Linked DNA regions of Homo sapiens: region 2 is linked to region 1. A link means that fine-mapping ties the variant in region 1 to the expression of a gene that starts in the linked region. Tissue or cell type: whole blood. Region 1 holds a variant in brackets; the other region holds the start of a gene. All regions are shown on one strand. Distances are between the middles of the regions.

The links. PIP is the estimated chance that this variant, and not a neighbour inherited with it, causes the effect.
Region 2: it holds the start of CYLD, and the variant in region 1 is fine-mapped to the expression of CYLD in whole blood (TOPMed, PIP 0.95).

The regions. Positions count from the first base shown.
Region 1 is chr16:50,681,435-50,684,117 of GRCh38, reverse strand. No RefSeq gene overlaps it. Among named protein-coding and RNA genes, the nearest start is that of SNX20, 1.5 kb to the right of the region's middle. RefSeq lists an enhancer at 1-102. The variant A/C (reference allele first, on the strand shown) is at 1,631.
Region 2 is chr16:50,740,978-50,743,660 of GRCh38, reverse strand. It overlaps CYLD (CYLD lysine 63 deubiquitinase), which reads right to left and starts at 1,575. Exons shown (of 19, transcript NM_001378743.1): 1 at 1,537-1,575; 2 at 820-899. It overlaps CYLD-AS1 (CYLD antisense RNA 1), which reads left to right and starts at 914. Exons shown (of 7, transcript NR_184279.1): 1 at 914-990; 2 at 2,257-2,333. It overlaps MIR3181 (microRNA 3181), which reads right to left and starts at 1,356; the gene lies at 1,284-1,356. RefSeq lists an enhancer at 821-920 and a silencer at 1,161-1,760.

The DNA.
Region 1 (2,683 bases):
TTTTTCCCCTGTGGTTGCCTTCTGCAGCATGAGAGGCTCACAGGGCTGCAGAGAAAGGCTTAGAGTCCACCCTGGTGTCTTGCAGATTCCAGGCCTGGGCAGAGAGTAGGCGAGAAAACTGGAAAGTTACGGGACACAACCCAGGGAGGAGAGGGCATTCCAGCCTCACTGTATGCAGGGAGCCACACCACCAGGCCCTCTGCTGGGCAGGGGGAGGCGGAGATGACCGACCTATGGCCCCTGCACTTACGGGGTGCCCCAGCTAGCAGGCCAGAGGCACACCACTCATGGCACTCCTCGTGAGCTCTGCCCAGAGACAGACCTTTGCAGATGTGGAGGTTCTTAATGACAGTGACGGCACTGCAGAGAGGTGGAATTGCAGGGCCATGTCAATAAGCAAGGTCAATAGGTAAACAGGGACATTATAGAGCCTCCAATGAAAAAGACAAGCAGCAACGGTTTTAGAATAGTAAGAACTGCCAGCACTTGTACAGCTCGGAACAGTGTTGTTCTAAGTGTTTGGCTCATCTGAACTCCTCTTGAGGTTCACAAGCCTATGAGCTTGTTGCAGAAGCAAATACAGGAGAAACCTTCATGCCCTCCAAGGATGACACTGGCTCAAGGCGGAATGTTTTGGCACTAGGAGGACTTCATTAAATTTCATGTTGCAATTAGGAAAGTTGAAATTCAACCATATCAAAGGACTAATATGGTTCTTTAAAGTTGACAACTTCTATTCGTCACAAAACTCCATTAAGAGAGTACAAAATGCAAACTGCAGGATGGAAAAGGATATTGAGAAGCACATAAACCCAAATGAATACATAAAGAACACCTACAAACCATTAAAAATAATCAAGTCAATAATGAGCAATGACCTTGAACAGACACTTCATTGGAGAAGGTATAAGGATGGCAAATAAGCCCATGAAAAGATGCTCAACATCATTAGTCCTTAGGGAAATGCAACTTAAAACCTTGATGAGAGACCACTGCACATTAATGCAGTGGTACACTGAAAAACACTGACCAAACCAGACACAGTGGCTCACATTGGTAATCTCAGTACTTTGGGAGCCCAAGGCAGGAGGATTGCTTGGGGCCAGGAGTTCAAGACCAGCCTGGGCAACATAGTGGCCATGATGGTCTATCCCTCCAGAAACAAAAAAAATTTATTAGCCAAGCATGGTGACGTAACTGTAGTCTTAGCCACTCAGGAGGCTGAGGTGGGAGGATCATTTGAGCCCAGGAGTTCTAGGTTGCAGTCAGCTATGATGGTACCATTGCACTCCAGCCTGGGTGATAGAGCAAGACCCCATCTTTAAAATAATTATAATAATGACCATATCAAGTGCAGGTAAGAAGGTGGAGCACCTGGAATTCTCATATACTGCTGGTGGGAATACAAAATGGCACAGCCACTGTGGAAAATATTTGGCGTAATCTAGCACAGTTGAAGCTATCTATACTCTGAGACCCAGCAATTTCACCTCAGATAAGTACATGGACTTGGATAAATGTGTAAGAATATCATCAGTGGCATTGATCATGATGGCCACCCTAGGAACAACCCAAGTGTGCATCAAAAGACAAAACAAAAAATGACAAATGGTGATGTATTTAAATAATG[A/C]AGCAACAGAAAACCAAACACAGCATGTTCTCACTCATAAGTGGGAGTTGAACAGTGAGAACACATGGACACAGGGAGGGGAACATCACACGCTGGGGCCTGTCAGGGGTGGGGGCCAGGGGGAAGGAGAGCATTAAGACAAATACCTAATGCATGCAGGGCTTAAAACCTAGATGATGGGTTGATAGGTACAGCAAACCACCACGGCACATATATACCTATGTAACAAACCTGCAGGTTCTACACTGGTATCCCAGAACTTAAAGTAAAATAAATAATAATAATAATGTAGCAACACAACAATGGAAATGAAAAAAAGTATCTACACAGAAATGCATCAGTGAATCTTATACCCATAAATGTTGCATGAAAGAAGCAAGGCACTGGAGAATACACACAGTATGCATGGTTCAATTTATATAAGATTCACAGATGAGTAAAATGAAACTGAATTGTTTGGGGATCTCATAGGTGGTAAATTTCTAAGGAAAAGCCAAGAAGTAACCCCCATCTGAATCAGGACTGTGACTGCCTCTAATAGGGAGGAAGGGAATCATGGCTCAAAAAAAAACACATGGCAAACTTCTGGGCGAGCCAGCAAAGTTCTATTTTTTTTTTTTTTGTCTGATTTCTGTTTCTTGCCTTCAAGGCCACAAAGATGGGTGGGCATGAATCACACCACACTGCCCTGGGGTTTCGCTTCCCTGGGACTTTCTGTTGGTGGTGATGGATACAGCTTTGCTCAGAGAAAAGGCACCAGATGGAACTGTAATTCTACCCCACTGCTCTTCTATGTCAGTCACTGGCTCTGTGTCCCACCAGCTCTGTGATCCAAGCCTCGGTTTTCCCATCTGTTCAAGGGGCATGACGGCCCCCATCATGCCTAGCTCATAGAGTAGAATAATGAATGTTAAAGGGCTCTGGGAGCTAATGCCTGAATTCCAGAGATCAACGGGGACTCGAAGGACAGCCAGACCTCTGCAAGGCGGCAGGGAAAGTGAGGCTGAGCTAAATCCCACAGGGCTGGCCCCACACCGCCTTGCCCTTCCCTGC
Region 2 (2,683 bases), 60 kb before region 1:
CAAAATACTAATAGTTTGATAAACAACATAACTATTCCTTTCTCTCTCCCTGTGTTGGAGACTTCCTTAAATCAAACAAAACCACAGTTTAGGTGTGCCAGACTATAAAAATCATTGCTGCTTAATGTTAGTTGTGCTTTATATAACAAGCCTTATCTGCTTCTCACAAAAGTTACCACCCAGAGGAAGGTTTATTTGCAAGAATACTATACAATTTTGCAGCAGAATATTAGAGAATGTTCTGGGTGTTACTTCAATAAGAATTTCCAGCAAATCATTTTCTCCTAATACTGTTCTAGTTCAAATCCACCTACTGCTCAGTGGGGAATGGGAGGCTAAATTCTTAAGGCCATTCAGTCTACTTGGGGCGTGAGGGGGTGTGTAGAAAGCCAACAATCAAACGAACACCCTCTCAAGGCCTGGGTGCTTCTCTGAGAGCCAATGATTGCAAAATGAACAATCTTATTAAGATCCCTAATTAGCCCGAATTCAAAAGCAAGGTAGGCATGCTCCTTAGCTGAGCTAAGGATAAAACTTTCCAGGAAAAATTGAGGAGAAGAAGGTGGCAGGGATGATGGGGGCTGGGAGACTGCAAGGCCACAGGCTTGGTGGCTGGAAGATGACAACTATCCTAAAACATTCAAATGCCAAGGGGTGGAAGAGAAACGATGCCAAGTACATGAATAACCGGCAGCTGACCCAGCTGAGTACCAAACTCAACACCATCTCCTGAAGATTTCATGACTTCGCCCCCGCCCCCCATTCGCCCCCCACCCCCCTCGATTGTTAACATGAAAGAAAAACATAAAGAAAGAATACCTGTCACAGCAGGGCGCACCTTTCAACTAAGGAACTCCGGGTGGCTGTGTAGAACCATCCTCACCCTAGAAAGGGGGAAACTGAAAGAAAAAGCAGAACACGCCATTAACAAGGCCAGAACCCCGACTGCCATTCCTGGACGGGAGCCACCAACACCCGCAAAATCGATCGGTACGTACGCCCCGCGGCGCGGTCGGTAGGAATCACAGCCCCGGGCTCCTGAGGCCAACCGTGGCCGTCGGGGCCCGCCAGCGGCCTGTGCCTCAGTCTCCCAATCTGTAAATGGGGTGGGGGGCGGGAGGGGGACAGCGTCCCGCGCGGCTCCCGCCCCAAGTCCTCTCTCCTCTGGGGGTCCCGATGGTGGCGACCCCGCACGCTCCCCGGACTCGCAGCCCTCCCGGGAAGCCTCGGGGGATGGGGAAGCCCCGGTGGGGGGGGGAAACCCGGGCTGACGTCAGCGGGCTCGGCAACCCGCGGGCCCGGCCGGCTCGGGCCCGGGCAACTAACGGGCCGGCGCCGAGGGCCCGATGGTCGCCGCGGCGGCTCCGGACGCCCTGAGGCCAGGCGGCTGCGCCGAGGGGATCCGGCCGCCCGCCGGCCGCCAGCCGCCCGCTCATTCACTAACCTCGGGCGGCGGGGCGTCGCCCCTCGCCCCGGCTCCCCAGCCCGCGTCCCGGGCCGGCCCCGGCTCCCCACACCCACCGCCCTAGTATTTACCTCCGACGCGCGGCCCCCGCGCAGCCAAACCTGCTACCTGGGCCCGCCCCCACCTGCCCCGCCTCCGAACCGCACAGGGAAGAGGGAGGGAGCGGGGGCGGAGGGGGCAGCCGCCGCGCTAGCCAATCGTAGGCCGAGCTGCGCTCCTGAGCGGGCCGTGATTGGGCCTCCCTGTGACAGACCTTCCTCCAATGGCTGCCAGCCCGGCGCCGGCCGAAGGGACTTTCCGCTCTGTCAAGCTCGGTGGAACCAAAGGGAAAGCGAAGGGGCGGGGCAGAGAAGAGCGGCGGATGGAGGCGGGAAGCTCAAGCTGATTGGGCGAAAGGCTGTGGGTGCCGCGTCACCATTGGCTGATGCTGGAGCCGGGGCGGGGCGCTGCGCTGCCACCAGCTCCGCCTCCCGTGCTCCCGCCTCAGCTGTCAAAACTGTAGACGCTTAGGTTTGGGCTGGGTTAAGAGTCCAGATGAAGGTTGAAATAGGATTCCAGGATGCCGTGAGAGAGCAAAGCTTTAGAATCAGACCTCAGTTTGAATCTTTGGCGCTTTCATTCAGTGGCTGCGTGACCTGAGGAAGTCACAACCACGCTGAGCCTCAATGTCCTCATCTGTAAAATGGAGATCATAGTATCGGTTGTCTTACAGGATTGTGGCAAAATACCGAGCTAAAGTTCCTGGCACGCAGTACCAGCTCAGGAAAGGTTCATCTCTTCCTCCTCCGCAGATTCAGCCTGGGACGCTTGCTGTTTCCGAACCTCTGTTGCCACCTATCCCAGTTTGGAGGGAATTTTCCCAAGGATGGTGAAGAAGGGATTTCCACACGCCGCCTCACTCAGCCCCGCACCCCTGGCCACCAGCCAGGACTTAGGGTGTAGTTAAGGATCTTTCAATTAGAAGGGAGGCTTCTGATTCCCAAAAGCACTCAAAATATTTAAGGAAGTGCTTTTTATAATCAGTCCTAGAGCCTTGCTGCACTGGATACTCCTGTTAATTAATTTCTTCTCCTTTGACATTTTAAGTGCTAATTATAGGAGAAGGTGATTAACACTGAGAAAGGAGGAGGGGTGTGTGTGTGTGTGTGTGTGTGTGTGTGTGTGTTTTTAATCATGACACAAATTTCCCCCAGTGGAAAGTGACATGTTTCTGGAGAT